Regions from separate parts of the Homo sapiens genome. Here region 2 is linked to region 1. Evidence: fine-mapped expression QTL. A gene starts in region 1. The other region holds a variant in brackets. All regions are shown on one strand. Distances are from middle to middle.

Region 1 (5,000 bases):
AAGAAACACCAGGCAAGCCAGGCACTCCATCCAAGGTGACGTTTGCTACCTATCGCTATATCTCTCCCTATCCCATATCTATTTCCTAACTGATTTGGAATTCTGTGGGAAGAGGTATCTGCTTGGAAGTCTTGAGAAAGAAGCACAAGGGCTTGTTTTGGGAGCCCAAAGTAACATGATGGGAGGGCAGGCCTCCTGATGCAGTTGCTACCTGGACTGCTCTGTGGTCACATGACTGTTTTAACAGGAAGACGCCATGGACCTCTGCAGATGACTGGGGCTCCATACCATGATAATTGTCTTAGCTACTTACCATTTTCTGGGTCATCACAGTTAAAAAGTCACCAAAGTTCATTTTTCCTGTCCCTTCCTTATCAATTTCACTTATCATTTTCTTAATTTCTTCTTTCTTGGGTTCAAAGCCCAGGGCCCTCATTGCCACCTATAAAGAAAACAGGATCGTCTCAATAAGCACATCTAAAGTAGCAGGAGCAAAAATAACAGTGTTGAGAGCATTAAGCCAGCATCTGATGTGGTCATGTTAATATGATTGGGGAACACTATGACATTGATCTAATTGATATTTGCAATCAATTTTATTGAATAATACTCAAAGTAAGTAAAGACAGGAAAACAGCACAGTACAACCTCCCCTGTTACTTACTGCAGGGAGAAGAGGGCAAAAGGGGTAGAGAGGTGATAGGGAGATGACAAGGAAGAGGCAGAGGAAAGGAAGGGCAGTACGGCAGGAATGCACAGAGCTTGCCTTCAGTTCTTTAACATCTATGGTGCCAGTTCCATCCGCATCGAAAAGATCAAAAGCTTCCCGGATCTCCTGCTTTTGCTCTTCAGTAAGCTCAGGCTTAGGGCTCATTCTTTTTCGCTGAGAACTTGATGCCATGTTTGCCTTCTTAAAGTTGGAGGCCTTTATATGTTATGCAATACACAAGCACAATAATATATCATACAGTCCATATTTACATAACATAGTTACAGACACCCATATGTATTTTTAAAGTCATTTATATAACCAATTCCAAAGCTTTGCTTAAAAAGAAAGATAACAGGGTTTACTGGCAAGAACAATGAATCTTTCCATGAACTTCTACCCCTCCCTTTTCTTTACTGTTGTTTCTAGAAGCAGGGAGATCACTTGTTCAGTAAGGACACCTCTTACTGAAAATCATCCCAAAAGAGAGCCAGTCAAGAAGATGACTGTGAATAACTAGAGATAATCAGCTCTTCCCGAACGTGGGGATCCTGGTTCTGAAAACAGTCTTACGATGCCCACTCCCAGTACTCCCCTTCCCAGTAAGTACTCCGACTTCCCAATTACTTCTAGATTTGGCCAAATATTAGTAAGTTGTTAAGATGTATATTGTGTCAGTACCGAGTAATAAAACTCAATCCATCTGGCACCTTCGTGCCTTCTCCAAGAAGCTAAAGCATCCCCTGAATGCCCCTGTATTTAAATTGTAAAAAACATTGTAACAGAACACGATACACCTTTTCCCAGCTGTGTGTGGAAATTTTGGCAGAATGAGGAGGCCAGGGGGCCAAGGTCTGAGAGAGTCAGGGGCCTGTGAGGGATTCGAGTCTTTTTTGCCCAGGGAGGTTCACCGAGGGGATCAGGGAATGCAAGGGGAGCCCGAGGGGCGGGTGTGGGCCTGTTGTGGGTGAAGAGGAGGCAGCAGCGAAGCGCAGGCCCAGTAGGTTGGTTAGCGTCTGTACCCTACTCTCCCGGGAAAGAGCTCAAAGGAAAGACTGGTGCGCTAAAGCCGAGAAAGGCGCAGGAGAGGCGGCGTGGCCGAGCTGGGGCCTGGGAAGGGCTCAGCCGCTGGGCGTGGGGCGCGACAGAGCGGCAGCACTCACCATAGCCAAAGGAGTCCGCTGCCGGTTGTTAGGCAACCGACGTGTACACTGACTCGGCGCCGTTCCCACCGCCCCGCGCGCGCAGCCCCGCTCCCCATTGGCCGTCCGCTCGTCGCCGCCTCTCCCTATTGGTGCAGGGCCGAAGAGGGTGGGACTAACCTGGCAAAGCCCCGGCCCAGCGCGGGGAGGGGCACGCTGGCGACAGAGCCCCGTCTTTATTGGGCAAGATCACGCCGTGAGCGCCAATTGGCTGAGTCGTCGCCGAGCTGGGCCAATCCTCTTGGTGGAGGAAGCTCGGCTGATTCTCGGCTCACGCGGGAGGGGAGTAAAGGGTGGCGGTCCGGGCCTGGAGTTCAGTGGGTGCAGCCTGCTTGCGAGCTGAGGCCAGACAGGGGGGCGCCTACGGACGGGTAAGAGTCGTGGCCTTGCCATTGGAGGTCACCCTGTGTCAGCGACTGGGCAGTGCGGGAGGGTGGGGAGCTACGGGGTCGCCCGGGTCGGGTGCTTTCTGGGTTGACCTAAGGCTGAGTTTAGGGACCGAGTGCATCAGAGCAGCCAGAAACGATTACCTTGCGTGTTGGAGCAGGGACTGTACTCACGGGGCAACTGAGACCCGGAGAGGGGAAGGGGTGTGCTGAGTGTTGTCGCAGAGGTCGGACGGCTGGGACCTAGGAACTGAATCCAGCCGAGGCTCGCTCTTTGAGGGTGGCCCTTCGAGAGCACCCCTAGACTGACCCAGATGTATAGGCCCCAGACCAGGTTCCAAGAGAGGATCACTTTAGATCTTACCTGGCTAAAAGCAGCCCAGGACGGTGAACTGGGGCCTTTGGGAACGGACTTTGAAAGGAGTGAGGGGGATGTGAGCGAGCATGAGGGGCGGGGAGAGGTCATCAAAATATACTCTTTTTGACACCCACACAATGCAGATAAGGAGGAGCATTCCAGGCCGAGACGCCCTCATCAGCAGAGTCACAGGAGTTTTGGAAGTGAGAGGTATGCTTGGAGAATTAAAAGGGAGCGTGTGCAAGGGCTGTGGACTGACATAGACCTGCAGAAGTGGAGCTGGAGGTCCAGTTTGCCCTCTTTAGCTATCCCCGTGGCTTTTAGCCTTCACCTGTTTTTCCTCCAGGCATAGGGGCAGTAATCTAGGGAGACAGAGGGCAGAGAGTAAGTTTCTCAGACAGAGAAAGGCCCGAGGCTTATTAGAACCTTTTAAATGGAGCTGCTGCCCTTTGCCCTCTTCTCTCTTCAGCAGTGAACAGATTCCTGACTTTTGGGTCATCATCATCCCCCCAAGTAGTACGAGCCAGAGTTCTCACTGTGATCTCCAAAGCTTGGCACGACGTGTCCCCTTCCATCGCTCCACAACTCTTCTCTCGTCTGGCTCACTCCAGCCCCAGAACACTGGCTTTGTGGTTGAACCTCATGTGCCAGCCACACTCCTGCCTCTCATCTTTGTCTCAGTTGTCCTCTCCGCCTGCCTCCTCTTAGGCACCCTATTTAAGTATTGCAGCCCCCAGTACAAACAAGCCACTCACCTTGCTCTACTTTTTTTTCCAACAGTTCTTATCCCCTTCTGACCTACTGTATATTTTGCTTGTTTGTTTTGCTCTTTGTTGTCCCTCCACTAGAAGGCAGGCTGTCTGAGGGCAGGCATCTTTGTTGTATTCACTACTGGTACTCCAGGACCTAGAACAGAGAGGGGCACATATTAGACAACTGATGAGTAGCTCCCCTGTTTCCCAGCTCTCACCTAGCTAGTCCTCCCTGCTCTACCAGGTTAATCTTCGTAGTGAACGGCCCTGGTCAGGGCATCTCCCTGCTCTTAAACCTTCAGAGCCTGAACCGTAAAGGGCTCCTTAGCCTGGCCTGTGATCCCTCTGCCCAGTTTTGCCCCTGGTAACCCTTCTAGCTTAATGTCCCTCCATACCTTGCTTCCCAGTCCGTCAACCTGCAGATCGGAAGCCTGACAGAGTACAAGGGAAAAACACAAGTTCTGCGCAGGCTGTGTGCAGGCTGTGTGACCTTGGGCAAGTCGCTTAACCTCTCTGAGCCTGTTTCTCATTTGTTGAGTGAGACCAGTACTGTCTACCTGATGGGATACTTTTGCATCTCAATGGGATGAACTACTTATATGTAAAGTGGCCTGATGTTGAGCAGGTCTTCAGGCAGTATTACAGTTGACCCCTGAACAACATGGGTTTGAACCTTGTGAGTCCATTTACAGGCAGATTTTTTTCTCATCTCTCCCACCGCTGAGCAGCAGGATCAGCTCCTCCTCATCTTCCTTCTCAGCATACTCATCAGGAAGACCGTGAGGATGGAGACCATGATGATCCACTTTCACTCAGTGAATAGTAAATATATTTTCTCTTCCTTATGATTTCATAGTAACATTTTCTTTTCTCTAGCTTAATTTATTGCTGGGACACAGTATGTAATACATGTAATGTACAAAATATTTGTTCATCAACTGTTTACATTATTGGTAAGGCTTCCAGCCAACAGTAAGCTATATTAGTGAAGTTTTAGGTGAGTCAAAAGTTATATGTGGATTTTTGACTTCGGGGCTCCGTGCCCCTAACCCCCACATTGTTCAAGAGTCAAATGTAGTTCTTGTCTCTGATTTGCTCTTGTCATTCCCCCCCGCCCACCATGCCTGGAGCCTTAGACTTGTCCAAAATCTCTTCCCTGCACTGCAGCCAAGGTGATCTTTCCAGTCGCAACACTCACTCCTGCTTCCAACTTCTAGGGGCTCCACCATCTTTCCCCCCTTGTAACTCCCTAGCTTGGCACACAGCCCCCACATGTTCTCAACTTTGCTCCCGATCTTGCTTCACACTTGCTGTGACACAGCTTGTCACTGTTATAAGAACATGCTGGCTCTGTGCCATCACTTTGTCCTTCCCACCCTGGCCATGGAATGTCTTTCAGGACACCATGCGCTCTGTTTTACTCACTCTTCTGGGGCCTTTTGAAGTCAGCTTAGGGATCTCCTAGTTGGGGCAGGCTTCCCTGAGCCAGCAGCCTGCATTGGTGCTCTGGGCTTGCCCTCATCAGAGTGGAAACGCACTTCTGTGACTCTTTGCTTGCTCCTGTCTCCCACCCTAGATGGCGGGCTCCTTGAA
Region 2 (5,522 bases), 31 kb after region 1:
GGCTAAAACGGCTCCCTGTCAGCTCAGTATCCTGACCCTCACAGGGATGCATGCCACAGGTACTGCATAAATTAAGAGAAAAACTTGAAGCAAGCCAGGGGGTTCCTCTCCCAACAACCTGTCCTGGCACTGTTGGCTGGTCCGCAGCATCCTCAGCCGGCCCAGCAGGGTTGGAGCTCTTCTGGGCTTGGGCCCTGGAAAAGATCACTTATAACTGACCCCTAGCAGTTGACAAGATGCTTTGCCCTGCTGAAGTTTTCACCTAATTAGCTCCTCGTTGGGTGACCAGGGGCTAAACGATGTCTCTTTGCTAGTAAATGGGAGAGGTGGGGTCAAAGCAGATTCTCCAAGTCCCAGACTCTGCACTCAGCCATGCTGATGTAACTGGAGCCCTGGGAAGGGCCCTGCTGCTCTTTGTTAAATGGAAGGTTGGGGGCATACAACAAAGATTTGTGCCCCAGGTGTGGCGGCTCACACATGTAATCCCAGCGCTTTGGGAGGCCAAGGCAGGAAGATCCCTTGAGCCAAGGAGTTCAAGACCAGCCTGAGCAACATAGCAATACCCCACCTCTACACGAATTTTTAAAAGCCAGGTGTGGTGGTATGCACCTGTAGCCTCAACTGTTTCGGGACGCTGAGGCAGGAGGATCGCTTGAGCCCAGGATTTTCAGGCTGCAGTGAGCTGTGATCCCAACACTACACCCCAGCCTAGGCAACAGAGCAAGACCTTGTCTCTTAAAAAAAAAATTAAAAAAACAACAAGATTTGAGAATAAAACAGCACCTCTCCACTCACCACAGCATTTAAGAAACAACATTACTGGCATGTGTAATGTGTGCCCATCCTCGATGCCATTGCTCTCTTCTTGTAGCCATGGATAGCAATTCTGAATTTGGGTTTATTTCCATTTGCTCCATGTGTAAGCAATATAAAGTATTGGATTGCATGTTATAAGATTTTATACAATGATATCTTATTGAACAGATCCTCCTGCAACTTGCTTTTTTCCCCAGTGTTATGTTTTTCTTTATTCATCTTGGCATATGTAACTCTGGTTTATTTACTGAAGGGGCAGAGTGGCTTAGTGGGTAAGAGTGCAGAAAGTGATTGCTGTGTTGTATTGAAGGAACATTTTCCAACACTGAGATCAAAAGATTATTTAATGTACTTTTTTTCCTCAAAGGTTTTAAGTGTTGCTTTCCACATTTCAGTCTTTAATCCACCAGGAATTTATGTTTGCTTATGGTGTGAGATAGAGATCTAACTTTCTTCCATGTGTATAACCAGTTCAGTGCCATTTATTGCATAATCCATCCTTTCTGCATCGCTGCACACCATCTGCAGCATGTCTTAGGTGTTTGTGTCTTACATGGGCCTGTTCCCAGGCTCTCCCCTCTGCCCCATTGACCTCCCTGTCTGCCCATGCAGAGAAGCTCTGCCTTTTTAGGATAAGTCTCAGTGTACCGTAGATAAATCACGCCCCCAACCAATTTCTTCAAACTTCACTTGGCTATTCTGAGCCCTTTGTTCTTCTACATATGTTTGGCTTAACCAGTTCCTTGCTAAAGCCAGCTGAGACTGCTGTTGTAATTGTGTTGAACTTGTAGGTAATTTTGGAGAGAATTGACATCTTTCCCATATTGAGTGTTCCTGTCCATAAATATGGGATATGTTTCTGTTTATCTCGCTCTTTAATGTCATCAATAGAGTTTTATACTTTACTTCGTAAAGATTTTGCATATCTCGTTAAATTTATTTGTATGTACTTCGTTTTTTGTTATTTAATAACTTTCTATTACATTTTCAGTTATTGCTAATATATAAGACGAGTTAATTTTTGTATATTGATTTTTAATTCAGCAACTTTGCCAAACGCTAATATTTTCTACATATTTGCCTGTGTTTTCTGTGTAGATTTTTCTCTCATCTGTAAGCGATGGAAGTTCAGTTTCTTTTCAAATCATTATAAATTCGTGTTTATCTTACCCTACCACTCTGGCTAGAGCTTCTCATACAATGTTGAATAAGAATGGGAACGATATGATTCATGCTAATGGTGTTCAGTGTTGGATGAGCTTCTCTTAACCAGCAGGCTGGACGCTGGGGACCCTCATAAGAGAATATCTTCCTTTAGAATAGCATTTCTTAAGAGGTCGTGTGGTGTGTGTATTCCTATGTGTGTTCACATGGCCAGGTCACTATCAGAATAGCCAGTGATCTTTTTCAGACATCTTCCTAGAAGTTTGCGGGCTGCCCTTCACTTACAACAGAGAATCGCTGTCATAGTGAGATACCATGAATGCAAGTCTATTCTATCTCTCAGGTGTGATGGGATAGAAAAAATGTGTTAT[C/T]CCTTGTTTTGAAACCAAGATCTCTTGATTCTTGGTTAGAATGTAATACATAGTGTGTCTGGAATCCACATAGCTGCAAAAGATGGTGATCTTTGGATTATTTTAAGAAGGCATGAAAAGCAAAGGCATTGCAGCAAATAATTTCTTCAGTGCCTCGAATGCGAGGGCAACAAAGGGATGCCCCTGATTCTCTTTCATACAGGATCATGCACTGTTTGAATTGTGATAATTTGTGACTTTTATTTTTTCTGACCTTCCTCTGTCAGAAACTCATTTTAACCAGCAGTGCCAGTGTCATCTTTGAGGGCGTCGATATCAAGAATGGAACTGAAGACCTTCCCTATGCCATGAAACCCATTGACTACTACACAGAGACTAAGATCTTACAGGAGAGGGTATGTACCTTGGAACTGGTTGAGTGAGCAGACTGAAGGGTTTAGAATCCTAAGAAAAATGTTTATGAACTTATGAAGTTTGTATTCTGAGGCCTACGTACCTGATTTGAGATGTAAAATTTGTGGGTGAAATTAAATTTAAAAATACTGTGAGAGGCCGGGCACGGTGGCTCACGCTTATAATCCCAGCACTTTGGGAGGCCGAGGTGGGTGGATCACCTGAGGTCAGGAGTTCGAGACCAGCCTGGCCAACATGGCGAAACCCCATCTCTACTAAAAATACAAAAATTAGCCCAGCATGGTGGCAGGCGCCTGTAATCCTAGCCACTTGGGAGGCTGAGGTATGAGAATTGCTTGAACCTGGGAGGCGGAGGTTGCAGTGAGCCGAGATTGTGCCATTGCACTCCAGCCTGGGGGATAGAGAGAGAGAGACGCTGTCTCCCAAAAAAAAAAAAGTTACTATGAGAACAGCTTTATGTGGCCAGACACTGTTCTGAGTGTTTTCCAGGAGTATTTTCCTTGTTTAAAGGTCACAATTATCGCATCATCACCAGATTATAGATGAAGACTGTGGTGCACAGATGCACAGAGAGGCTCAGAACCTTTCTAAAACTGTGCAGCTAGGAGGTGGCTGACCCCAGGCAGTCTGTCTACAGAGCTTACAGCCCACCCTCAATGCCATGGGAGCTTCCTCGCCTGCTATGGGAATTTACAGCAGTTGCAAGCGTGCAGACAGGAATCAGGCTGGAGGCACCTTCCTAGTGGCACTCTCACCCCCTCCCTTACTTAGAAAAACAAACAACGGAAGGATCTTGCTTTATTTTAAGGAAAAAGTACTTTTCCACTTGGCAAAACAGCTTCATCAAAGGGCACCTGATTTTAGTATGGTTGGATTCAGCCACGGTCGCTACCAAGCCTTCAGGCTGCTGGGGCTGTGGGGCCCCTGACAACTGCTAGCTGCAGATGGGGATTGTCACCCTGAGGCCATCCTAAGCTGCAGGCCAGGAGTGCTCCTGAGCCTGGGATAGCTCGTCTTAGCTGGGTAGCTGTGAGTATACCCCTCCCAGGTGTGTGCAGTGTATCACACCCACTGAGGTTTTCTCGCAAAGCCGGTACATGCTGTACTGGAGCTGAACACTGACCTGGCTACCTGAGAGCCAGCTGCCTCCTGGCTGTTTGCCGTATTTTTTTTTTTTTTCTTTTTTGAGATGGATTCTCACTCTGTTGCCCAGGCTGGAGTGCAGTGGCACGATCTCGGCTCACTGCAACCTCCACCTCCCAGGTTCAAGCGATTCTCCTGCCTCAGCCTCCTGAGTAGCTGGGATTACAGGCGCGTGCCACCATGCCCGGCTAATTTTTGTATTTTTAGTAGAGACGGGGTTTCACCGTGTTGGTCGGATGGTCTCGAACTCCTGACCTCATGATCTGCCCGCCTTGGCCTCTCAAAGTGCTGGGATTACAGGCGTGAGCCACCATGCCCAGCCTGTCTGCTGTTGCTTCAGCTCAGAAAGTCCTGGCAGAACTGGTCCACAGGGAGACACAAGGGCCACCCAGACCAGGGGTGGAGGCTTGAACTTTGGCAAGCCACAGTCCTGGCTCCAGACTATGCTGTCTTGCTCCTTGGAGCACTCATGTGCTCGAACTTGGCCCAAGGAGTACTAAAGCCTCCCTGCGCCTTGCAGGCAGTTCAGTCACCATGGAGACCCTGTGTATTCTCAACCCAATATGCCTGATACTGATTGCCACCAGAGCTGAGCCCATCTAGGCTCAGGAGCTTCAAATGATGGCCTTGGCCCAGACCATCAGTGTCTCGCTTATATCAACTTTTGGGTTCTCAACTGGAAATAAGCAAAGCCTGCAGATGACTCCAGCAGTAACTCACCGGAAGCCTCCTTTCAGCCGAGGTTGACATCCACTGTTGGCTTTATAACCTTCCTACTGATCATAAACCAAATGTGATGGGGAGCTAGGACTCCTTCACCTCTCTTCCCTTTAGTAGTAGAGATGAGCCTTGGTGGAAGCCATTTGAGGGTTTATTTAGTCATTTCCTCCATCGCTGTGGGGACCAGAGTCCTGGCGGGAAGAGGAGGGCCAGCTCTGGGAATCTGTTGAGAGGCAGCTTTTCCATTGTTGAGTTGCTTAAGATCACTGGGGCCAAAACATAGACCAGCACTTTGCTACCATAGAGTAGAAGAAACCCGAGGTGACATGACAGCAGGAACCGTACTTACCAAGCATACAGACACGCACTGAAGCAACTCACATGGGCCATCTCGTGTAATTCGCATGCAGCCCCGTCAGGGTAGGTACCTTTATGATCACCACTTTTACCCACGATAAAACAAATCCTTTGGAAAGTTTTGTTACTTTTGAGGCGAAACCCATTTCACTGTGCTTTAGACTCTTGAGTTCTAGTTTGTCCATGAAGTCACACAGAAGTCACCCTTTCCTTGCGGTGGCAACAGGAGCACTGGCTCTGGACCAGGCACTGCTCTGAGGACTTTACATGTCTCGGCCTCCTTTGCCCCCCAGCTGCTGGCCTGTTTCTCCCCAGGCATGGTCTTCAGACCCTTCACCTTCTCTGACCCTCTTCTGGGCCCACTTGGGTTTCTCAGAGCCCTCCCCTCGGAGGTGATACTCAGAATTGCCTGGAACAGACCCGGCCTGGTGGAAACGTGGGCGGCACATGCAGTTCAAGTCACTGGAGGCTCACGGCTAACTTGTTTGCCAGAACCTTTGGACGTTTTCCACAAACTGCTGCCGAGGCATGTCTTCT

What was found. PIP is the estimated chance that this variant, and not a neighbour inherited with it, causes the effect.
Region 2: its variant is the best candidate, but not a certain one, in a credible set for the expression of CETN2 in blood mononuclear cells (TOPMed, PIP 0.50).

The regions. Positions count from the first base shown.
Region 1 is chrX:152,828,836-152,833,835 of GRCh38, forward strand. It overlaps CETN2 (centrin 2), which reads right to left and starts at 1,922. Exons shown (of 5, transcript NM_004344.3): 1 at 1,873-1,922; 2 at 767-925; 3 at 314-442. The coding sequence starts at 1,875. It overlaps NSDHL (NAD(P) dependent 3-beta-hydroxysteroid dehydrogenase NSDHL), which reads left to right and starts at 2,228. Exons shown (of 8, transcript NM_015922.3): 1 at 2,228-2,282. RefSeq lists a silencer at 1,822-2,161.
Region 2 is chrX:152,859,979-152,865,500 of GRCh38, forward strand. NSDHL (NAD(P) dependent 3-beta-hydroxysteroid dehydrogenase NSDHL) reads left to right here. Exons shown (of 8, transcript NM_015922.3): 5 at 2,618-2,746. Among named protein-coding and RNA genes, the nearest start is that of NSDHL, 32 kb to the left of the region's middle. The variant C/T (reference allele first, on the strand shown) is at 2,352.